Regions from separate parts of the Homo sapiens genome. Here all the other regions are linked to region 1. The links come from fine-mapping of genetic effects on gene expression. Tissue or cell type: whole blood. Region 1 holds a variant in brackets; each other region holds the start of a gene. Each region is shown on its reference strand, or each on the opposite one. Region 1 has its middle 45 kb from the start of LINC01625. Region 2 holds the start of AHSP (alpha hemoglobin stabilizing protein). Region 3 holds the start of KRT1 (keratin 1). Region 4 holds the start of PTMS (parathymosin). Region 5 holds the start of PLEK2 (pleckstrin 2). Region 6 holds the start of GATA1 (GATA binding protein 1).

Region 1 (4,088 bases):
TCCACAAACAGGAATACCAAATAGGGAGTAAAGATTTTTGTGGAAGAAATTTAGTGACATGAAAAATTGTTCACAATATAATAGTAAGTGAAAAATTATAAGGTTATACACATTGTTATTAATTTTTGGGGAAAATGTATTCTTATGCTTACCCATAGAAGAAACACTAGGTAGATAAGCGCAGTAATATCAGTAGTGATTCGATGTGGGTAAGTGGGACACTGAAGCAGCTTTGGTCTCTACTCTTCAAGATTTTTCAACCTTCCTTCAATAACATGTGCTAATTTTATAATTATTAAATATATATCAAATAGGGACATTAATATTCACCTTATAGATTTGTGTTAAGAATTAAATTAGGTGAGATGATTCATGAAAAACAGTTTAGTGCCTAGCATTTAATTGGTGTTTTTGATTATTTTTATCCAGTTTAATCAGTCATCATGGACTTAGCTCAAAATGATTTTTTTGACTTGAAACAAAACCAAAAATACTACCCTTTAACTGGTGAAAATTTATCACCGTTAAGGATATTCAAAAAAAAAATGCACCGTAAGCTATGAAGGCAATTTCAAAAGAGATGTTTCTGAAATGCCTTGAGCAATGAGAGAGACAATGAAATAAGCAATTAAACTTAAGGTGACTACTTTGCAGCATTTATTTGGACCTAGAAGCTTTGGTTTGTTTGTTTAAAAAACCTGTCATTACTATAGCCACATTGGGTACACGGATAGACGGAACAATATCTAACTCAAAGCGGGTAATTAGTCTGTCAAGATAAATGCCCCCTCTTCTTCAAGCTGATAAAAAGTATCTTGTCAGGGCCTCTTGTGTCATCCCCCAAACACTGTGCGTAAGCCCTGCTGTTTTCTCTTGCAACACGCTTCATCCTGCAGAAATGCAGAGGGAAGCTTTTTGTGGGTATGGTTGGTTGAAAGACAGTTCATATTACCCCTATCTCCTTTCCTGGACTGTATATCTCTGGGGTGCTATGACCTTCTCCCCCCCCCAGGGCACATGTGCACTTGCGCGCAGGCACACACACACACACACACACACACACAAATATGTATACCCAGGGCCGGGCGTGGTGGCTCACGCCTGTAATCCCAGCACTCTGGGAGGTCAAGGCGGGCAGATCACCTGAGGTCAGGAGTTCAAGACCAGCTTGGCCAACATGGTGAAACCCCGTCTCTACAAAAATTAGCCAGGTGTGGTGGTGGGCGCCTGTAATCCCAGCTACCTGGGAGGCTGTGGCAGAAGAATCGTTTGAACCCAGGAGGCAGAGGTTGCAGTGAGCCGAGATCGTGCCATTGCACTCCAGCCTGGGCGACAGAGCGAGAGTCTGTCTCAAAAACAAACAAACAAACAAACAAAAAAACAAAAAACAAACAGAAAGAAACATGTATACCCACGCACACACAGACATACACACACGGACACACATTCTCCCCCGCCCCCACACACACACCCTCAGAGAGATACCTTATCTCTCTGGCTCTCATACACACTCCTACTTTCCCCTCTCCTCGCCTATCGATCTCCTCTCCCCTGTGCTGAGTTAGAAGCTCCTCCTATTATTTTTGTAATCTCTGTTTTAGCATTTCCCATAGAATATTGCAAACATGGAGTGCTTATCTCGCTCTCACACTGGAGTTCCTTGAGCCATCTGCCACTTTTATTAGCCTCTCAGAACGCTCATTTCTTCATCTTAGTGTTCCATTGACAAATGGGAACATAATGCCTCATTTAGAAGTTAGTTGTGGGCATTCCATTGCATAACGGAGGTAGAATTCCTGGCACATGCTAGCCACCCAATAATGGAAGCTATTATTATGATTAATTATATTATTTATTCACTTTTATATCCTGAGGGCCTGGCATAGTGTCTGATGTGTGATGAGTGTAAAATAAATTTCTGGTGAATTAATGAATTAACTCACAAGCTTACAGAATGTGGCTTCAAAATAAAAGAAGAATGTTGTTTTGTAGCGTTTATAGTAGGTGTGAGCGGCAAATCCACGTGCTTCCCCTTCTTACCCCTTTCCCCAAACAACCTATCTGGTGCCAATCCTTGGGAAAAGAAACCGTTACCATCTAGATATAGAAAGCCTATTGACTATTATTTCCATGTAGATATGGCTTAGCAAGGATAAGAGGAATTTTCTCCCTTGATTATCATCTCCTTAGGCTATGTAGTTTATTTCCCAGAGACCGGTCTTCCTTAGCCTTGTTAACCTTTATATGCTTTCTAACTCCAACAAACAATTATTGGCTG[A/C]AATAACCTGATCGAGACACAATCAGCTTCACGGCTGCCTCCAGACTCTACCCGATCTGTTAGCGCTAATCTATTCACCTCTCAGTGTTCACAAAACCTGTTAGCTGATTTGCATTCCACCTCCTATCTTTTCCCTACTTCCTTTGAGGAAGATGTTTGTGAATTATTTTAAGCCAGTTGAATCACTCTGGGAGTTAAGTGCTATTTTAAGCTTTTGAGGAACAGTTGAGAAGGAATGACTTAGGGATGTGAAGCATTTCCCAATAATATCCCACAGAAACTTCAACTTACCAAGTTTGTGGTAAATTTCAGGATATTAAGACACCCTGAAATGGGTCACTGTTCTTGGATACCAGATTCTAAGCTACCCATTGCAAAATGTCTTGTTAAAGCCATGGTGTACGGTGCAAGTGAGATCCACGAGAGGCCATCTGCTGCTTGAGAGAATGTCTTCCTTTCCAGCATCTGAATGCACTGCTTTCCTTGCTGTCTGCCTAGTTGCAGAACTTTGTCTTCTTTTATCAGGACCACTGTCTCTGTGTCCTTGTCAAACTTTTTGTCCCCTAACGGCATCCTCTCCTTCAAATATTGTGCAGCAGATCTAGGGTCCCAGGTGAGTGGACCTCCGTAAGCAGATCACAAGGTGAGCACCCTCTTGAATAATTATTCCACTTGCTTTTATGAACCTTTCCTGAGCCCCCAGCCCACCAGCCAATGTATATTTCCCTACCAAAAAACGCTACCAGTTCCAGGAAGTCTTCCCAGAGTGATAAGAACACATGCTTTATCTTATCTCAACTTTTCTAGACCTCTATGTTGATTGCCGTCATCGCATGTTGACCCTGCTGGCTCCTTATTGGTCACCCTTATATAGAAATCTATGCCTTTGTGATCAACTGTGATGTTGCATTTTGCCATCTGTATGTCCTTATCATGCTGGTTCAAAACATTCTTTTTAGTTGTAGAATGTACCCAGTTAGAATGGAAGGACCGTATTTCTTTTCTTTCTTTTTCTTTTTTTTTTTTTAAGGTGACTAATGAAACACCAAGTCATATAATTATGACTTAATGGATACTTTCTGTTGTTGCTGATGATGAAATGTCCTTTCATATTCAGACTGTATCTTCCTGTAAATCAGGTACAGTGAGTCATGGGGGAACAATGGTGGGATGTTACAGTGATGAAATCTGGAGTCAAATCTTTGTCATTAACGAACTGAAAACTTGGATAGAGTTTTATACAATTTCTTTATATACATGGAGCCAGCTGTCTTTCATTGGTTAGGGGTGAAAATAGGTCCACAGTTTATGGATTATGGAGTTTGGATAAAGATAAGTGATGTTCTGAATCGCCAAGTCTACTCCAAACTTCAGGGAAATCACCACTCCATGCATGAGGAGTGATCTCTTTTGCACTCATTTTTGCACACTGATATTTTTTTTTGCAGTGAAGGTACCAAATTTATACATTCATATGTATATATATTTAAACTGTTTTTCCTTTGATGTGGAATGCTGAGAAAATCTAACACTAAATTTTGGAGATGTTGCTGTAATCTGTAGTTTTTTGGAGGAAGAAAGATGATTGCAGTAATATTTTTGTCACTTCATTACTGTCGTTCCTGTAGTAATTGTCAATGTAGGGGTTTATATTTTATTCAGATTTATCAGTAGGAATATGGGAATAGAGATTTTAAAATTAAGAGCGAGGAGAAACCCAAGAGTGCCTTCGTATTCTAAGTAAGGAAACAGACCCTTTGAAAGGTGACGTGTTTAAGATTAGATGGCTAACGTTGTGCCAACCCAGGCC
Region 2 (4,088 bases), not on the chromosome of region 1:
TCATTTTAGATTTCTGACCTCTAAGTCTGTAAGATAATAAATTTATTTATTTATTTATTTATTTAGAGACAAGGTCTCACTCTGTCACCCAGGCTGGAGTGCAGTGGCGTGATCTTCGCTCACTGCGGCCTCTTCCTCCTGGGTTCAAGCGATTCTCCTGCCTCAGCCTCCCAAGTAGCTGGGATTACAGGTGCATGCCACCATGTCTGGCTAATTTTTGTATTTTTAGTAGAGAGGGGGTTTCGCCATGTTAGCCAGGATGGTCTCGAACTCCTGACCTCAAGTGATCTGCCTGCCTTGACCTCCCAAAGTGCTGGGATCACAGATGGGAGCCACCGTGCCTGGCCGGTAACACATACTTTCCACCCTATATAAATGAAAACATGTTCACATGGAAACCTGTACACAAATGTTTATAGCAACTCTATTCACACTTGCCCCAAAGTACAAACAATCCAGATGTCCTTCCGTGGCTGAATGAACAAACTACAGTGCATCCATACAATGCAATGTGTCCACTGACACTTGTGACAACTTGGATGGAGCTCAAGAACATCATGCTGACCAAAAAAAGTCAGTCTCAAAGGTTACATACTGTATGATTCCATTTATATGACATCCTGAAAAAGGCTTAACTGTAGTGATGAACAGATAAGTGGTTGCCAGAAGTTATGGGTGAGGGTAGGGGTGGCTACAAAAGGGTAACGTGAAGGAGTGGTTTTTGGGTGACAGAAACATTCTGTATCTTAACTGCGTTTGTAGTTACACAAATCTGTTATAAAATTAATAAACTAGGCCAGATGCGGTAGCTCACACCTGTAATCCCAGCACTTTGGGAGGCCAAGGTGGGTCGATCACTTGAGGTCAGGAGTTCGAGACTAGCCTGGCCAACATGGTGAAACCCCATCTCTACTAAAATACAAAAATTAGCTAGGCGTGGTGATGCACGCCTGTAATCCCAGCTACTTGGGAGGCTGAGGCAGGAGAATCGCCTGAACCTGGGAGGTAAAGTTTGCAGTGAGCTGAGATCGCATCACTGCACTCCAGCCTGGGCCACAGAGGGAGACTCCCTCTCAAAAAAAAAAAATTTAATATACTGTACACCAAAAGGAAGTCAGTTTTGCTGTATATTGATTAAAAAATGCTACAACCAAAAAGGCAAATCAACAAAGCTTTATGAGTGTATAGGCACCTATGAATGTTGGGTTTTGAATGGAAAAAAAAAGTGACAGGAAATATACAATGTTTAATGCTGGTTACTTTGGAGGGGGCAAAAATGATTCAGTTTTTCAGTGTACGTTTTTGTATTGTTTTAATTATTTCAATTAGTATATAGTGATTTTGAAATTTGAGAAACATCTACTGAAAATGGAAAATATCTGGAAAAATATTTAAAAAGAGGAAAAAGAGTATTTCTGCTTTATTGGGTACCTGTTGACAGGGTAGTAAACAAGACAAATCCATCTCCATTCTTTTTTTTCTTTTGAGATGGAGTCTCGCCCTGTCACCCAGGCTGGAGTGCTGTGGTGTGATCTTGGCTCACTGCAACCTCTGCCTCCTGGGTTCAAGCGATTTTCGTGCCTCAGCCTCCCAAGTAGCTGAGACTACAGGTGCCCGCCACCACGCCCGGCTATTTATCTCCATTCTTATGGAGCACAGCGTGGTGGAGTTCAGTCCACACGCTTACAGGTGGCTTATCTGCAAAATGTGTCTAAAAAGAAATTTTATAGGATAAATATTTTGTACATGTTTGAAACAGTGCTTGGCACAAATGAATAAATGTAATGCAAGCTGCTATTAATACATCATCTCCGAATTGGGAGAATCATTGCGATCACATCGTTGTGATTACACAAAAGCCTCTGTCATGTAATAGGGCTCAGTAAACGTCAATTTCCATAGCATTTCGAGCCTGGATACTGAAATATGGGGCAAAAAGCAGGAACATGCCCCTGGTTTGGCTCTTGCCTTCTTGCATTTCCTGGGTTTCCTCATTTATCTTTTTTTTTTTTTTTTTTGGCCTTGTTATCTTTCTACCTTCAGGGAAGCCTCTCCCTTCTTCTCCTCCCTAGAATGACCTATCACCCTCCTTCAGGACCTAGATGCAGGGCGTTTCTATCTTAGGCTGACACTTGACTCCTTGCCTACATCTATAGCTTGGCACAGAGAGATTCACGCACCCTCAAGAGTGTGGGTGAGACATATACAGCCTGTTAGACCTGAAGGTGAGCCCAACCTGGGAAAATCGTGACCTCAGAGCAGGGCAGGATGTGAAAGGTTTTGGAAAGGAGATAGCCCTGCAGGGCAGGAGGGATTTTTAAGGGGAGGAAGTGGGTTGGGGGAAATACCCAGTGAGGAGGGAAACAGATATGTAAATTCTACCCTTTTCTCTACCCAGGCAGATGGCTCTTCTTAAGGCCAATAAGGATCTCATTTCCGCAGGATTGAAGGAGTTCAGCGTTCTGCTGAATCAGCAGGTGAGTCCAAGCTTTCCATTTCAAAGGACTGGCCTGGAGACTGGGGGGTGCCGGGGAAGTGGAGGAAGAGGATAATTGGAGCTGGTGAAGTAATGGTGGAGTTGATGGAAACAACGAGAGACACGGGATACAATGCAGAGGAAAGAGAATGTGAGAGTTGGTGCTGTGGCACTATTCTAGTATTCCCGAATCCCATTGCTGACCACATTCTCCCTTGCCAACTGCCTCTCCGCAACCCCCCAGGTCTTCAATGATCCTCTCGTCTCTGAAGAAGACATGGTGACTGTGGTGGAGGACTGGATGAACTTCTACATCAACTATTACAGGCAGCAGGTGACAGGGGAGCCCCAAGAGCGAGACAAGGCTCTGCAGGAGCTTCGGCAAGAGCTGAACACTCTGGCCAACCCTTTCCTGGCCAAGTACAGGGACTTCCTGAAGTCTCATGAGCTCCCGAGTCACCCACCGCCCTCCTCCTAGCTCAGGGACCCAGCCCCTCCTCTCTGAGAAACTCTGACCTTCATGTCCTTAGGCTGTGCTCCTGCCACTCTACCCTGACACCTCAATAAAGACCAGTGCTGGTTTTGTTGGACTTCCTGGCTTCTCTTTCATGGTCTGTCCTGACATGTGGAGGCACTCGGTCCCTTTCCTTCCGCCCTCCTTCTTAGATATGCTCTTGGAAGCTTAATTCCTTACAGCAGAGGTTAGCAGCCTTGAGTGACCACCGGGCAGCGATTCTAAACTAAAACAGGCTGAACGAGGGCCAGGAAGGCGGGACTAGAGAGAGTGCAGAGCTGCAGGGGAGGGGGTGGCAGAAACAAGAAAGGGGGATAGAAGTCCTCCAGACATTGTCCTGTGACCTGCTTGTCGAGGAGGAAACTGTTGGAAGTCTCCCAGTCTTGTTCATCCTGCGCCAGGTCCACCGCCTCGACTTTTCAATCCCCTGTCCTTAGCCCCAGCTCAAACTACATTCTAGGATCTTCGGACTCTGACTACCGCAAAATACCTCCCCGGAGCCCCAGGCATCGCAGGAATTTAGAGTTGGAAGGGATCCTGGGAACCCTTTAGCGCGCCCCTTATATTTCAGGAGGGGAAGCCACTTCCCTTTGGCTCCAACATCCCTGGGCGCAGATGCCAGGATTGGGAAGCAGAGGAATCCGCCTTCCCCCCACCCCAAGCTTCTCAGATCAATTCCCGGTCTAGCTCCCTTTCTCCCAGACCTCCAGACTCGAAGCCTCTATTTTAGGGCTCTGGGCGGAACCAGGGACGGGCCAGACTCAAGAGCTTTTTAAAAACGAAATGAAGGTGTTAGACCCGCGGCGCAGTCTCCAGGAAAAGCCTCCACGCGCAGAGGGGAGGGCCCTCCGGGGGAGGGTGCGCGGGGCGGGGGCGCGCGGGGGGAGGGGGTTCCCGGGGTGCTGAGCGGGGGCGGGGGTGCGCGGGGCGGGGGCGCGGCTAGGAGGCGCCGCACAGCAATCAGACGCGGCTCAGGGTGCGCGCGGGGAGCTGGAGGGCGCAGTTCTGGACCTTTTCGGTGTTCTCTCTAACGCGGGAAAAGTTTGGGGCCCAGAGGGATTGCTCCTCGTTCCAACCTCCAGCAAGCTTTCCTCTGGG
Region 3 (4,087 bases), not on the chromosome of region 1:
CATATACTCCCCAGGTCTACTACCTGGCTCTCCATATCATGGCTGCTTTCTGCTTAGTAATTGGAGACCCTCTTCCCTTATTTATTTCAAATGTGAGTTCCGTCCTACAGAATTTGCTTACCTTCTTGATGGTCACAAATTCATTCTCTGCATTTGTCCGCTTGTTGATTTCATCCTCATACCTGCAGGAAAGCAGAAACAATTAGGAGATTCAGAGGTGGTAAGACCTGAAGTCCAGCATTCTAAACTAAAGGTGGCATTGCCTATCACTGCCTTTCTATTATGAACCTAGGACATATTGGCCACTACTTTCTACTGAGCAATAAAACCACTAGACTATTTCCATCTCCTGAGAAAATGAAGATTTCTGAAAATGTCAAACTGATGTGCCTCTAACCTAAGAAAAGACATAGCTACATGCTGCTTCATGATCTTAGCTTATTACTTTCTGGAACTCTTTTACAGCAAAAGTTAAGAACTGCCCAGACAGGGTCCCTTACTTGTTCCGGTAATCCTCCACCATGTCCTGCATGTTCTTCAGTTCCGAATCCAACCGAGATTGATCACTCTTCAGTTGGTCCACTCTCCTTCGGAGATTGTTGATGAATGACTCAAAGTAGGGCTCTAAATTATGGGTTCTAGTGGAGGTATCTACCTGCTGCAGCAGCTCCCATTTTGTTTGCAGTACCTGGTTCTGCTGCTCCAGGAACCTCACCTAAAAACACAAGACCCCTTTACTCCTGATGCATAAATGGAGTCTCATAGCCATGGAGAACTGTGCCTCATTTGGAAAAGAACCTCAATTCCTATCTTCTGACCATGACAGAGAAATAGGAAGAAGATGATCAAGTTAATATCATCTGCATAATAAAACCCAACTTGTTAATTCAGAGAGGGCTTGGAAGGGAGTAACTAAACAAATACCAATAGCAAAGCGCATACAGAATTATTGCAATTATGTTTTGAAATAGGTGCATGGTATTTAAGAGATTTGCCTTCCAAAATTTTGTTAGGTATATTACCATAAAAACTGGTTTGCATCCCCAGGACACACACACATTTCAAAAGTATATCAGGAAAATTCAAAATTGGATTTGAAATTTGTTGTGGATAACCTTGGATTGGCACTATTAATGATTAAGCAAAAAATTAAAAAAATGGTTTATCTGAGTTTTTTAGAGCTGATTTTTGGAGATATTAGTATAAAAAAACTCTAGCCTCATCCAGTACCAATGTAAAATTATTAGAAGGCAGAGCTCCCCTCTGACAGCAAAAGATGTTTGGCACTGACTGACCACATGTTTTCTGCTACAATAACACTCTATACTATGTTCACACTCAACTCCCTTTCTATGGTTAGGAAGACCTTTCCAGGGTTCTCACTTGCACCCTGGAAAGTTCAGTTAGCCCCATTTCTATTATCTTCATTCAACAGATATGAGTCCCAATTCCGCTCAAGAGCTGAATAAAAAGCACTTAAATGTTAATGTCACACTGACCCACCTTTAGGTCGACCACGAACCCTTTGTCAAAGAGAGAGTCATTAACACCATTCACAAGCATACATCTAACATATCTCCTAGGAGACCATTCCACAAAACATCCTTTTAATCATGTAAACATGGAAACTTGAGGTTCAAACCTACTGTGTTTTGACTGCACCAATCCCAAGTGGACCAGCGGCAGCCCTACCAGTGCAATGAGAGAGAAACTCACCTTGTCAATGAAGGAGGCAAATTGGTTGTTGAGTGACTTGATTTGCTCCCTTTCTCGAGACTTCACCTTTTGGATCTCAGGGTCAATCTCCACATTGAGGGGCTGAAGAAGGCTCTGGTTGATAGTGACTTCTTGTATGCCACCAGGAGGGCAGACAGGACCATAACCACCCCCATATCCACCACCCCCAAAGCCACCTCCACCAAAACCACCACCACCACTGCCAAAACCACCAAAGCCACCACCCCCAATGCCACCTCCACCAAAGCCACCACCACCAAAGCCACCACCACCAAAGCCACCACCACCATAACCACCACCAAAGCCACTACCACGTCCACCTCCTCTAGCCACACTTATGGAGATGCTTTTACTGCCACCAAGGTTAACAAGACTCCGACTTCCAAATCCACCACCAGCACCAAAGCTACCACCACCACCACCACAGCTTGAAAATCTCCCACCACCTCCTCCACTGCGGCGTGTGGAGCTGCTGGTGGTCCTGCGCTGGTAGTTGATGATCCCAGCAGAGCCAGAGCTGAAGCCCCCTCCACTTCGGTACCCAGACCTGGAACTAAACTGTCGACTCATGTTGACTTAGAGAAAAGTAGGAGCAAGGTAGAGTAAGGGAAGGAGCTAAACACTCCTCTACCCCAAGCATAGAGACTTCCCCTTATATACAGGGAAGAAATTGGGCTTGGTCTTCTAGAGTCAGCGGAGATGCAGTGCCTGTCAAGGGTTTGGCTTGCCTGCAGCCATACAAGATTTTTACGAGCCTCAACAATACGATAAACACTACACACCTAGCTCCCAGGATGGGCTCTCAAAATTGCTGTGCATGCAAGATTGGTTCATGTGGTAATTATTTTATCACACAAGATCTTCCTTCAAGCATTTGTGGCTTTGGGAAAACAGGACCCCACATCTGATACCTGGTGTTTCTTGGTAGGATTTCATAACCCCCATCAAAAAGGCATGAAAGTTTCTATTCTCACCTTGCCTTTGTGAGCTACCAAGCACACTCTCTTACCATGCACAGCAGGTGCAATTCCCCGTGCTTGGATCTCAGAAGGAGCTCTCTGGCCCATTTCTAAGATCTTCTTTCCAAACTCCAGAGCTCACTCAGTTACAACCTGACAAAGAGAAAGGGCTTTAATAACTAAAAAATTAAAAGGTCTTTCATAAATATAAGCTTTATAAATATACCACAGTGATTAATTAAAGGAAGAGAAGCTGTCATTGAACAAGATGGATGAGTGGGTGGTCTGGAAGAACCAGAAGGGAGAGACATTTTTTTTCTCTGTTTCTCAGTTATTCCTTTTCTTGTTTCTTTTCTTCAAAGATAGAGCAGGAGACAGACACCAGCAATAGAAAACAGGTAGCAATGGATAGCATGCAAACGCCCTTGAGTGAAAAAGCCCACAGAGCAGTGAGACGAGTAAATAGAAGCTCTAGGACATTTTGTAAAGCACAGGGGTGGAGGTGAGGCTTGATAGGTGATTCAAGCCTCACACTGGACTGCAAAGAGAGAGAGATAAATGCAGATTTGGAAGGGAAGACAATGAGAGGTGTCTGGAGAGCCTTATATGAGAAGTTTAAATTGTTTCTGGAGGTGATAATAATGATAATACCTAACATGTATCAAAAACTGACCATGTACCAGGCACTGTTCTACGTAGCACATATGTATTAACTTGCTTAATTTTCACAACTTTGAGATAGATGCTATTTTTCTCCCCATTTGTAAAATGAGGAAGCAGAGACACAGGGGTTGAATAACGTGATCAAGTCTACACAGTTGGTAAGTGGGGTGCCTGCGATTTGAAGCAAGAATACCTAGCTATCATGTGCAAGATCCTAAACAGCATGTTGTACGACAGCACAGCAGCCGAATTCAAGTCATTCTGCCTGCTGTGTGTAAAGCCAGACAGCACAGGAAGCGCCCCACCACAGAGAGCTCTGAGGGCAGAAGGCCTGTTTTATCACTCTGAGTCCTTGGCTCCTGGCACATGCAAGTCTTGGAAAATGTTTCTTCAATTCACACTGAGAAGGAGATTTTGGTGGCACAGAGTTTAGTGAGGAGATTTTACTTCCATCCAAGTGCAAGAGTACCCAGCATGCATTGCAATGGACCAGGAAACCTCAGGGGTCTTCCTGGAGAGCAGCACTTGATCAATATCAGTGGATAATAGTGGCACTGAGATCTGGACACACTAGAAGCCCAAGCAGACTTTCATTCGAAGACTTCTTAGAAGCCTGGCATGGTCCCCGGGCCTGCACATAAACACAGAATTGAAGACTCAAAGGGGAGAAGCCAGCTCTAACTTCAGCTGGCTCCAAGTAACTCTGTAAGTGGCAAACCATAGATGTA
Region 4 (4,087 bases), not on the chromosome of region 1:
TCCGGCAAGGAAAAATCCTGGGTGGGGCCCCAAGATTTTTGAGGAGACTGAGACTGAAATATTGATAGAAAAGTCAGAAAGAGAAACTGGGAGGCGTGTACATCAAGGGACCAAAAGATGGTGTATTTAAGCACTCAAACACAAAATAATGATAATGATCATCAACGTAGTTTTTTATTAATAAAATGAAAATAATAAGATGAGGAATAATGATAATGACAGACAAATATGGGAGTGCACGCACACCAAAGGTCTTTTTCCAAACCCCAGCCTTCCACTCTGTCCACCTTCCTGACCTTTAATACACAACCCAGCCCCTGTTCCCTTCTGAAATCCCAAGCTTTTCAAAATGACTCAAAGATACCGAGATTGAGGGCGAGGAGCTGAGGATGTGTGGAATAGGGTGGGGCTGGAACTCCAGACCTGGACCTGTATTATATTTGCAAAGGAGGCAAATATAACCCAGAAAGGCTAGGGAAGATGGCAGCAGAGGAATGAGAAAAGCTGAAGGATGGAAAATGTAAAAAATGAGGACAGAAAGAGGAGTTGAGGAAAGCCAGCCAAGAATAGAGGGCCAGGTGCCTGACTCAGATAAGACAAGAGCAGGGTTGTCTGGGAAAGATAGGGAAAGAGACCAGAGGTGGAAGGGCAGAAGAGAGTCAGTGAGGAGTGGAGAAGAGGTGAGAGAAGAATGGGAGCGATTCGAGTTATAATTGGTTGTGAAGGAGGGGTCTAGGTACAGATGACTGAGGACGGATGAAGAGAAATAGAAGGACCAGGCGAATAAAAGTGAGGTGAGACGGGCGAATAAGAGAGGTAGAAGATGGAAGAGAGCTGGAAGACAGCAAAGGAGACCAGGGGGCCTGACTCCCCCCGGCTCACAGCACGGGGCCAGGAAGGGAGGCACCCGGCAAGGGTCACAAGTGTCAATCTGGCGGGACAGAAGGCTGGGCCGCCCTTTCTGCCCTCCCATCCCTCCTCAAGGCCATCCAGAGAATGTGGATGGAGGATGAGAGGGGGAAATCCGGCGTGGTGTGGAAGGAGCGCCCGAACCCTCTTCCTCTTCTTTAAGCTTTTGGTTTCTCAAATACCTGCCCTATCTTCCCATCTGCTCCCCTCACCCCACCCCTTGGCAAAATCCCAGGGCTTTTTTTGGGGTCAGTAGGATTCTGGCCACCTCTCCAGTCCGCCCCCAAAAGCCAGACTCCACATTCGCAGGCAGTAGGTTGGGATTTGGAAAGGTGCCTCCCCGCAGGAACCCCACCCCTTCCCACCTCCTCGCCCCACTCTTTCTCCGCGGCCGTCAGTCTCTCCATTTCCCCCTCCTGGTCTCGTCCTCCCTCCCGACTCCCTAGCTCTCCCTCCCCTCGCTTTCATCCTCCTATCCCCACCTCTCCAACCTCCTCTTTCATCCCCCTCCCCTCTCCTCTCCTCCCCGCTCCCGCCTGCCCCACCCCTGGGAAGCCCCTCCCGTCGGGCAGCGCCGCCTTATAAGCGGGTTCCCTTCCCGGGGGCGGCAGCGGCTGGTCGGCGGCAGCTCTGCTGGTGCGGGGGCGGCGAGCCCGGGATCGAGCTACCGCGGCCGAGCGCGCCGGCCACCGCCTGCACCGCCCTTCCGCCCGCCCTCCGGACGGCCGCAGCCCTGCGGGTCTCCGCTCCAGACCCACCCCCGCCCCACCCCGCGCGCCTCTGCCGCCTCTTCCAGAGACCCAGCTTGCCGAGCGGCCGCCGCTGCCGCTGTCGCCGCCGCCGCCGCCACCGCGCCAGGTTCCGGCCGCGGCCACCCTCCGCCGTCCAGGGCCCCTCCGTCTCGGCCCCGGGACCCCGGCTCCCCGCCAGCCCCGGCCCCGGCCCCGGCACCATGTCGGAGAAAAGCGTGGAGGCAGCGGCCGAGTTGAGCGCCAAGGTACGGGCGGGGGCGGCGGCGGCCCGGACCTCGCGCAGCCCTGGGGCCCGGCGCGGTCCTTCGCCCCAGGCCGCCCCCGACGGCCCCGCGCGGCCCTTGCGCCCGGGTCCTGGCGGACCCCACTGCGCCCTCCCACCGCTCCCCGGCCCGGAGCTCCTTTCCCGGCTCCGCGCGGCTAGCGCCAGCGCCCTCTAGCTGCCCTGCGCGCACCACGGCGCCCGGCCTCGCCGCTCCGGTCGCGCCGTCCCCCGCAGCCGTCCCCACCCCTCTTCGGCCCCACCTCGCTGACCGGATCCCGTCCGGCTTCCCGTCCGAACGCCCCGAGTCTCACTTTGCCGCGCCCCCTCCCTGCGCCCCGCTGCCGCGTCTTTGCTTGCAACCTGACCTCACCTTTCCTCGCTAAGCGGTTTGAGATCCTCAAGTGTAAACAGGACTCTCCCTGGAGGCTGCTCCTCCGGGCCCCTCCCCGCGGCCCGACCGTCGCTCGCTTCTCTCCCCGGACGGCGGCCGCCTCTGTTTTCTCGTTCCCTCCCCTCAGCTGGCTTTCAGCTTTCTTTTCTCTTCATCGTCCCCTTCCCGCATACACACTGAAAGAATCTCGAATTCCTAAAAATTAGAAGCGGGGCAGGACTAGCCTTCGAAAAAGCCGAGGCTGGGCATTGCATGGCATTGCGTCGAGCTGTCCTCGCCCTCATCAGCTCCCTTCCCCGGCCCCATCCGTTCGCCCTTGCCTCTCTTCCAGCCTTCCTCTAATTTCCCCAGGGAACCTGCGGAGTGTCGCTTTGGGAAATTAACGCGGCCGGGGTTTGGGGGCTGGGAGCCCTATCTTGTGTGTGTATGTGTATGGCGGGGGGGGGGGGCGCGGTGGTTGCTGAGGGGCCGTCACACAGGTCTCCCGGAGGCCCGCGGAGTGAAACGGGGGGAGCCAATGGGATTAACGGCGGTGGGAGAGGGGCTGTGTGCGATCTGCCAAGGTGCGCCCGTGTGGCCCTCCGGCGGGCTGTGCGGTGGCATGTGACTTCACTGAGTAGGTGTCTTTGTATGTCTGAAATCCAGCGAGTGTGTGGGACTGCCCGTGTCAGTTACATGTGTGCATGTGGAGACGTAGATGTTCTGGAGCCATGTTGTCGCTTTGTGAGTGCTGAGTGGCTCCGCTGTGCTCCCGTGCTGTCTCAAGAGTGTGGACCAGAATGGCCCAACGCTGGGCCATGTGTCTCCCATCGCGTGGGTGCTCCTCTCTAACTGTGTCTGTGCATGGCTGTCGGCCGGTGTCGGTGTGTGTGCCTGTGTTGAGTAAATGAGGCCAGAGGGCTGCTTAGCAGAAGACCTAGGGCCCAGGTCACATATTCTCCTGGAAAAGGGATCATGGAAGGACAGTGACCAGAAGGACAGAACAGGGGAGGAGAGGGCCCGGCCCCTTGAACTTTGGTCTCTGGTATTCTCCCTCCCTGCATCAGCCCAGATGGGAAAGTCAGGCCAGGGCCATACAGACTTTTGGTGCTGGGGCCCCCAGAGAGAAGCTGACCAGCTCTTTGCTCTCCTGGCCCAGGACGTAGGGAAGAGCCCCCTAGGTAGTGGAAATGCCATACTGACCTTGTGGCACAGAAATGAAGACCTCACGGTGGGGTGGAAGGGCACCCTCTCTGGAGTGAGAGTGAAGAGTTCTGAGCTACCCTTAAAGGGAGAAGGGAATTGAGTGCCCCCCAGGGCAGCCGTTCTGCACCAGGCTCCTCTCCTATCCCCTATCCTGTTCCAGAAAGGACCCCCCCGCCCAGGGTGATCTCACACAGGAGACTTCCATTCACATGGAATCAGATACACAGCGTGGCACACCAACACCAGATCAGATCACACAAGGACACCTACCGTGTTACACTGTGCCTGCCAAGGAGTGGGTGGGGAGAGCACTGGAATCTGAATTGGGAGGCTAGTGTAGTGTCCAGAAGGGACTCAGATGTGCCATATCAGCACAGGACGTCAACCTATGCCTGCTAGGATCTTGGGGTGAAGGAGAGGGGCTGGCTGGTGGGAGGGTCTCCTAGACTGGTCCCTCCCTCTTCTCCATTCCTATCCCACCCCAGTCACAGACCTTGTTTGTTGCTCTCTCCTTGTTTCCCACGCCTGCTACTCTTCCCCTCCTTGTTTTCTCTTCTACTTCACCTACATTTCCACCGTAAATGG
Region 5 (4,088 bases), not on the chromosome of region 1:
CCAACTCTATCATGTCCCTGCCTGTCTCTGGCTTCGCTTTCACCGGTGATGACTGCTCTGCACTCCGGCTTCCAACGCAGGCCCTGCCCCACCTCTGAGCTCTTAACTCTCCTAAGACTATGGAATCCCCCTGCCACAGCCTGCAACTTCTCCAGTGGACATAGGGAATGCTATTGCCATCTAAGAGTAGAGGGGATATGGAGGGTTGAAAAAGTTGGGATTACTCAGCAGACTGGGACCACAACAGGGTTCTGGGGCCCTATCCTTCAGCCTGCAGGGAGGGGTGTGACTTCTGCTTGCCTCAGGGTCAGGCTCCATCCCAGTCTTTGGGTCTGGCTGGAATGAGCTCTAGGTATTTCAGCCAAGCCCCGTCTTTTCCAAGGGCTTACGGGGACCAGATCTGTTGACTCTCCTCATTTTCTGCACCCTGGATTCCCTAACCAGGCCACCCAGAAGAGAAGTCCCATCCTCCTGGTGATATCCTGGGAGCTCTGTGGCTCTGCCCTTAGCCCTCCTCTGACTCTCAGCATGGTGGGGGTGATAGGGAATGATGGAAGGTAACCCCCAGGAACAGGAGAAGGCCTCCAAAACTCCCAAAGCTCTATCAGAAGGATCTGTCTCCATGTTAACTTCATCCCTCCACAGGCTCTACCAGGGCCCAGCTATATCAACAGTGCCAACAAAAAGCCCCGTGCCCAGCTCTCACTCTCCCTCCCACCTCCCAAGCCGCAGTTAAATGTGAGATTAGGAGCTCCCCATGTGTAGTCTGAGGTGCAGCCACCTCCACATGCTGCGAGAAACCGGCCTATCAGTTCAGCCACAGTGGCAAGTGGGCGTGGCGCTTTGTACTGCTCTATCCAGTCTGACCCTTGATCTGGCATCAGCTTCTACCCTCCTTGCTTACTGTTTACAGCAAACAGCCACCGCTCTCCTGTACCAAATAACGTGCAACATCATGTGGACACATTTTGTGGGGAAAATGAAAGTGATGTGAGACTTTAGGGCTGATCCAGCCACCCCGGGAGGCAATGAAAGGAAGGGCCCCTCATCCCTCTTCATTCCCCTCCCAAAGCTGAAAACTCAGTAGAAGAACCAGAAAGCTCAGCCCTGGATTTATATGTCTCTTTGCTATGCCATCATAGCAGTATAAATGGTTAGTGTTAATGTCATTGTTCAAATTACGCTCTGTGTGGTGGCTCACGCCTGTTATCCCAGCACCTTGGGAGGCTAAGGTGGGCAGATGACTTAAACCCGGGAGTTCAAGACCTGCCTGGGAAACATGGCGAAACCCTGTCTCCACAAAAAAATACAAAAATTAGCTGGGCATAGTAGTGGATACCTGTAGTCCCAGCTACTAGGGAAGCTGAGGTGAGAGGACCACCTGAGCCTGGGAAGTCGAGGCTGTGGTGAGCCAGGATTGTGCCACTGCACTCCAGCCTGGGTGACCCTGTCTCAAAAAAAAAAAAAAAAAAAAAAGGTCAAATCAGGAAAAAATTTTGAAATAACAAACTTCCTTTTGCAGCTGCTCTTTTGTTCATCTTCTACCATAATCCCAGGCACTGAGTTTTTGTTTGCACTCGTTTGCCCTGGGCCACCTGGGGTGGTGGGGAAGGACTGAGGAGGGGAGGTCAGAACATGCAGTTCCTGTCCCAGCTATTACTGGCTCTGGAGCTCTGGGCAAGCTACTTCATCTTTCTGGTCCTCAGTTTCCCCGTCTGTAATAGAGTGATGTCAGTACCCACCGTGTATGGCACTGGGGAGGCAGTAAAGGTTTGGGTCAACCTGAGTGGGTCTGATCCCGATCCTGGCTCCACCACCCACTGCCTTCACCGCCCCGAGCAAGTTCCCTAACTCCTCTGGGCTTCGTTTTCCCCCTTGATGAAAGCAGGGCTGCTGGGAGGATGACATGAGACAATATCCAGGGCTGGCCAACAGTAAGTGCTTAAGACACATAGTAGCATTCCTCCTTCACAGGTTGTAAATTACAGAGCACGCCTATATTATCTTAGTAAATATTATTTAAATATCATACCATTCATAATATTTTAACAAGTTTTAATTAAGACACACGCTTCAGTACCCCTGCCCCGACTCCATACTGCGCTAACCAAGTGGGATTCTCCTCCTTGCCTGTGCGCTGAGCCACCGCTTACCCCGCGTCCCCTCGGACATGCAGCTCTGCCCATCAGGGCCACAGGCGGCCCGGTCCCACCATGGGGGTTGGGGATGGGAACCAGAGCATGCCCGTTCCGGGGCGCGCGTCTGGCCCCGCTCTAGGGAGCCGCGTCGGCGGGGCCCCACCCGGGCAATGTCCCGAAGCTCGACGCGCACTCACCCTCTTGACCAGGAAGCCCTCCTTGAGCACGCCGTCCTCCATGTCGCCGCCCGCACGCCAGGGCCACCCCAGGTGCGCCTTCCCCGCGCCTCGCGCTCCTCGGCACCCGCGCAGCCCGCGCAGTCCGCGCCCACGGCGCCCAGGAAGCAGCTCCGACGCGGCAGGGCGACGCCTCCCTGGCGCGTGTCCAGAGCCTGAGGCCCCGGGGCAGGAAGTCAGACCAAGTCGGGATTTCTGACGTGACGTTTCCACCCAAAGGTGCTCCAGGGTCGGTGGTTGGTCCTCCAGGTACAGAGCGGCCAACCCCGCCCCATCCAGGTGCGCCCCGCGCCCCTCACTGTTCCAGTCTCTCTGCTCAGCGTCCTTCGCCAGGTGCTTCCCGGGCACTTAGCGCATTGCCCTCGAGGAACGCTTATCGAATTGAACATAACCGACAGGACTCCAGGATTTGGAGCCATTCCTGAGCTCATTGCAAGTAGGAGATGGGACAGTGGGTGAGCCGAAACTGGTATGGGAATTTTATCCTGGCCTCTGATGGGGGCAGAGAAGACCTCTCAGTAACAGGAAGGTCACAGTTTTAAGGCGGCAGGCACAGTTTGCAGGGCCCCCTGTCCGCAGGATATACCCCGCTCCCTCAAAAAAGATGAAGCCGAAAATTCCATCATTAAGGACAAAATTTAAGGGGGCACCAAGGAGTCCAGTAACCTAGACAAATTATATATAGAGAGAGATGATTGGTTTTTTGGGGTTTTTTGTTTGTTTTTTGAGACAGGGTCTTTCTCTGTCACCCAGGCTGGAGTGCAGTGGTGTGATCATAGCTCACTGCAGCCTTAAACTCTGGGCTTAAGATCCTCCTGCCTCAGCTCCCCAAGTAGCTAGGACTACAGGAGTGCACCACCATGCCTGGCTGGTTTATTTTTATTTTTCGTAGAGATAGGGTGTTGCTATGTTGCCCAGGCTGGTCTTGATTCCTGGCCTCAAGCAATCCTCCGGCCTGGGCTTCCCAAAGTGCTGGGATTACAGGCAAGAGCCACCGTGTAAGACCTAGAAAAATAATATTTTAATGCATTTTTTAAAATCAAAATTAATGTCAAAAAATCCACGATGAACAAAATGCTAACATTTTAAATAGATAGGATCAACAACAATGTTCTATCAGGCCATATTGGAGCCTGGAACAGAAGGAAACTCAGTCAAATAGTACTGATTCTGTCTAACAATCCTTAGAACACAGTCACACATTTTTTTAAAATTTATTTTTATTTATAGAGACAGGGTCTCACTATATTGTCCAGACTGGTCTCGAACTCCTGGGCTCAAGCAGTCCTCCTGCCTCAGCCTCCCAAAGTGCTGGGATTGTGGGCATGAGTCATGGGGCCGGTCCATATTATTTGTGCTCCAGTTTGAAGGGCCCTGTCAGGACTCTTCACCAGGCATGGGAAAGGCCCTCAGATGCCTGTAAGGGAAGAGAAGGCTCTAGAGAGGAAGAAGGTGAACCAGCTTGTGGAAGGCGGGGGGTGCCTTTCAGAACCAGACTGAAGCCAGCTCCCAGGCCAGTCCCTGCCCTGGAGCTCTTGACACAGTGTTGCTTCTACATGTCTGTAGTAGACATATTACATCCCCCCAACCCCACTCCCACCTGCCAGCCCCAAGGAAAACTCGCAGGGTCTGGGTCACTGCGTGCCAGCCCAATGGCCCACTCTAGCCTTCTGCACTAACTGGCCTTCAGACTTCCCAGGAAGCCCCAAAGCAG
Region 6 (4,088 bases), not on the chromosome of region 1:
AGTCTATGAACGAGGATGAGCTGGCTCTAGAGACCATCTCCTGAAACCACTGCCACTTAAGTCAGAGGTGTCTTTGTATTCGTTCTCCTTATTACTGATGAGGGTTCAGCATGGGGCGTGGCACACCAGCAGGAGCTCAATAAATAGGAATTCATGGGCTTGCTCTCTTTCCTCCTCAAATCTCCCATTGCATATGAGGACACTGAGGCTCAGAGGAGTGAGATAAGAATGGTAAGATCCCTCCAGGGTGGGCCAGTGGGCAAGCTGACCCCACTGACCTGGGGCTCCACCCTTGGCCTCTGCCCTTTGTAGGTCTCAGTCTCCCCATCTGTAGACTAGGTGGGCAGGACAGCTCCTTGTCCCACGTGTGCATGTGTGTCAGATGCTTTCATATAGAAAAAGTGCTCAGGTTAGGTACAAGTCTATGTGAGGTCTATGAGACACTGTGGTTGTTGTCATTAATATTTGGAGGAGGTGGGGCAGGGCAAGAGTGTGGGGACTGGGGTGCGGAGGCCTAGCCACATTCTGGTTGTCCCCTGCTGAGGGCTGAGGGCAGAGCCACAGGCTACATCAATCCACATCCTCCCATCCTACCTGCATGGGCACCACATGCCCAGGGTGTGATCCAGTCTGCCTGGACCTTCTTCTGAGTCTGTCTCTGAATATCCCTCTGTCTCTGTCTCCCTTCTCAGTTCTCCACTTCTGTCTTTGGCCTCTTTCCCTTTCAGGTTTTATCTGTCACTTCTGTCCATCTCTGTCTCTCATTCTCTCTTTGCCTCTCTCTATATGTCTTTAATGGTCTCTGGTTCTCCCCGGGTGTCTCGCCCTCTTTGTCTCTCCTTTTCTTTTGTGCCCTCTCTCTGCCTCTTTCCACGTCTGTCTCCTTCTCTATTCATCTCTGTCACTCTCTTTCTCCCCATTTCCATCTCTCTCCGCCTATCTCTGTTTTTGTTTGTCTCTCTGCCTCTGTCTCTCCCACTCCACCCCTTTCCTTTCCTACCCTATACCACTCCTCGAGGAATCATCCCTGGCTCCCACCTCAGTTTCCCGCCTCCAAGGCAGCATGGCGGGCAAGAAGTTGAGGCCACTGTCCCTGGGTGTTCCTACCCCCACACCCTCACCCCAAGACAGCCTGTTACTGCGGCGCCAACAGCCACGGTCGCCTACATCTGATAAGACTTATCTGCTGCCCCAGGGCAGGCCGGAGCTGGCGTAAGCCCCAGTGGGGCGCTAAGTGAGTGTGCCCCTGCCTCCCGCCAGCACTGGCCTGGCCTGCAGGCTTAGCCTGGGTCATCAAGGTATCCCACAGGCTCTAGTTCAAATCCAGCAGAACCTCTCTGAGCCTCACTCTTCTCACCTGCAAAATGGGTACAGCCACATCCCTTCTCTCCCTGCAGCCAGGAAGACGCACATACACAGGAGTCTAGCCCACACCGGCCCCGCACAAATTAAGGGCTTTACTCTCTGAAAAGCCCAGTGAAGTCATGAAACCATATCTGCTATTTTCATTTATCTTGGTTTCAGCCTATTTTGCTTGTCTGGACACTACAGTCCACGGGAGCCTAGGTCGAGCGAGGTCCAAGAATCCCCAGGGTGGGCAGGGAGGGTGGAAGAGGGCCTCCAGTGCCCAAGAGGTGCCCCACAAGCATGGGACCCGCCCCCTCCCCTGGACTGCCCCACCCACTGGGGCACCAGCCACTCCCTGGGGAGGAGGGAGGAGGGAGAAGGGAGGGAGGGAGGGAGGGAGGAAGGGAGCCTCAAAGGCCAAGGCCAGCCAGGACACCCCCTGGGATCACACTGAGCTTGCCACATCCCCAAGGCGGCCGAACCCTCCGCAACCACCAGCCCAGGTCAGTCTCAGCCCCCAGAGAGCCCCCACCAAGGCAACCCTGGGCCTGCTGCCCCTACCCTTATGCTTGCTCCAGGCTCCCCAACCCACAGCTGGTCCCCAAAGTGTCAGCCAGCCCTGAATCCCTTTACAGCTCCTCCAACCCACCTGTCTTTCCAACTCCCATTTCTACCCCAAATCTACCCCCTAAACCCCACCTCTTTCTGCCCTCTCATCCACTCCGTCCAAGATATCTATATCCTCTGGATCCCTTCACTTTGCTCGCTATACCCCTAGGTCTGTCTCCCCTAAACACTAACTCTGTCTCCCAAAACATGACTTTATCTCCCCAAATCCTTTCCCTGTCCCATATCTGATTTCCACTCACCCAAACTTGTCTCTGTCTCCCTGACTTCTCCTCCAAACCTCACTTTTCTGCTCCCAAACCCCTTATCTGCTCTACAACGCCTTGTCTTTGCCCCACTCTCTCTGAGCCCCCAAACCTGTCTCTGATCTGCCAAACCCTAGCTCCATCCTCTTACCACCATCTCTGCCTTTCAAACCCACTCTTTGTTCCCAATGACTTCTCTCTGATCTCCGCAAACCATTTATCTCTCCCAACTCCCTGCCTGCTCAGTAAAATATCTTTGTCACTTCAAACACCAAGTCAACTCCCCAAAATCTGTTCTGCCGCATGAACCCTCATGTCTGCCTTCCCCAAACCGTATCTCAGCCCTAAAACACATCTCATTGTCTCCCTGAATCTCTCCAGCTCCAAGCCTTTCTCTACTCCAATTCTATCTTGGCTTCTCAAACTCCCCTTTACTAGCCACATTCTGTCTGCCCAAACAGATCTTTGACTCCTAAACTCCATCTCTCCTCCAGAAAAACCCTTGAACTCCCCAGACTTTTCTATGACCCTCAGAATCTGACTCCCACACTACTTCTCAACTTTATTTCTGACTCTCAAACTTCGCCCCGATCCCCCAACCTCGTCTGTTTTCACAACCTATTCCTGAGCCCAAAATGTGTCTCTGAACTTCCAAGCTCGTCTCTGCTCCACAACCCCGCCCATATCTGCCTCCCCACAAACTCCATGGCTACACCCCAAACCTCTCTGACTTAACCCCATATCTGACCTTCAAATTCCACCTCTATCTCCCCCTAAGCCCCATATCTGCCCCCTAGACCTTATATCTGCTCCCTTCAGCCCGGTGAGACCCTCCCTTGAGGGCTGGGATTGGAACGTTACCTGGGGTGAGGGGCTGGGGCCGAGGGAGAGTGGAGGGTGCCAGCTGCTGCCTGCTGCCGCCGTTGGGGCAACACTTACTCTAGTGGGGCAGCTGATAAGGAGCTTTCATATCCCCCAGCCTCGAGATAAACTTTATCTCTGTCCGGAGAGTGATAACTGGGGGTGAGGAGGCTGGGCCCCTGCCATGGGAGGGGTGGGCAGCCCTGGACTCACCAACGTGTGAGGTGCAGGGGTTGGGGGCAGTGGGGCTGGAGGGAGATCATGGTGGGTAAGGTGGAGTTGAGGGGATGAGGGAATAGTGGTGAAAGAGTGAGCAGAAGACACACAATGAGACAGGGAAGAGAGGGAGAAACAGGGAGAGATGGGAAGAGAGAGACAGAGACACAGAGACAAAGAGCAAGAGACAAAAGAGACATGAAGAGAAAGGAAAAACAGAGAGAGAGAAACTCAACGAGTAAGAGACAGAGACAGACAGATGGCCGGAGAAAAAGAAGGAAAGACCCGGGAGCAGAAAAGGAGATAGAAATGCAGAGATACACGCAGGTAGCACTGTGAAGAGGCAGAGACTAACACAGAATTAGAGACAGAGAGGAAAGAGATGGAGACCAAGATGGGGAAGCAAAACACTCTCTTCAGAGAGCAACAGCAGGCACCCTGGGGCTGAGAAGGTGTTGGCGGTGGGCACACTTGTGGCCCATCTCTTTCCTAGCATAACTCCCAAGCCTGGGCCTGCCCCTTAGCCTGTCTATACCATGGGTCATGTAAGCAGGAGTGAGGGGCAGTTTGAAGACAGCCTTCTAGTCTAGCCCTGTCACTCCACCCTACAGACACAGAAACAGAGCAGGCCAGCACAATAGGGCCAGGGCCAGCATTCCAGGCTCCTTATCCTGAGCTGCATGTGGCTGGGTACGGTCAGGGGTATGGGACTAGTAAGAGGCACGTGGACATAAGGTCAGAGGGCCCAAAGAGAGGGAAACAGAGGGAACAGACAAACAAGCAGGAAGAGTG

What was found. PIP is the estimated chance that this variant, and not a neighbour inherited with it, causes the effect. A credible set is the group of variants that fine-mapping cannot tell apart.
Region 2: AHSP starts here. The variant in region 1 is fine-mapped to the expression of AHSP in whole blood (TOPMed, PIP above 0.99).
Region 3: KRT1 starts here. The variant in region 1 is fine-mapped to the expression of KRT1 in whole blood (TOPMed, PIP 0.96).
Region 4: it holds the start of PTMS, and the variant in region 1 is the best candidate, but not a certain one, in a credible set for the expression of PTMS in whole blood (TOPMed, PIP 0.61).
Region 5: it holds the start of PLEK2, and the variant in region 1 is fine-mapped to the expression of PLEK2 in whole blood (TOPMed, PIP above 0.99).
Region 6: it holds the start of GATA1, and the variant in region 1 is the best candidate, but not a certain one, in a credible set for the expression of GATA1 in whole blood (TOPMed, PIP 0.86).

The regions. Positions count from the first base shown.
Region 1 is chr6:139,517,278-139,521,365 of GRCh38, forward strand. No RefSeq gene overlaps it. Among named protein-coding and RNA genes, the nearest start is that of LINC01625, 45 kb to the left of the region's middle. RefSeq lists a cis regulatory region at 1,341-1,817. The variant A/C (reference allele first, on the strand shown) is at 2,279.
Region 2 is chr16:31,525,738-31,529,825 of GRCh38, forward strand. It overlaps AHSP (alpha hemoglobin stabilizing protein), which reads left to right and starts at 2,163. Exons shown (of 3, transcript NM_016633.4): 1 at 2,163-2,225; 2 at 2,399-2,477; 3 at 2,721-3,066. The coding sequence starts at 2,403. The coding sequence ends at 2,954.
Region 3 is chr12:52,678,042-52,682,128 of GRCh38, forward strand. KRT1 (keratin 1) reads right to left here and starts at 2,366. Exons shown (of 9, transcript NM_006121.4): 1 at 1,717-2,366; 2 at 501-715; 3 at 122-182. The coding sequence starts at 2,307.
Region 4 is chr12:6,764,845-6,768,931 of GRCh38, forward strand. PTMS (parathymosin) reads left to right here and starts at 1,519. Exons shown (of 5, transcript NM_002824.6): 1 at 1,519-1,906. The coding sequence starts at 1,862. RefSeq lists silencers at 1,384-1,713, 1,824-2,323.
Region 5 is chr14:67,409,683-67,413,770 of GRCh38, forward strand. It overlaps PLEK2 (pleckstrin 2), which reads right to left and starts at 2,483. Exons shown (of 9, transcript NM_016445.3): 1 at 2,336-2,483. The coding sequence starts at 2,377. It also overlaps a transcript of GPHN not described here.
Region 6 is chrX:48,784,796-48,788,883 of GRCh38, forward strand. It overlaps GATA1 (GATA binding protein 1), which reads left to right and starts at 1,795. Exons shown (of 6, transcript NM_002049.4): 1 at 1,795-1,850. RefSeq lists cis regulatory regions at 1-482, 922-2,042.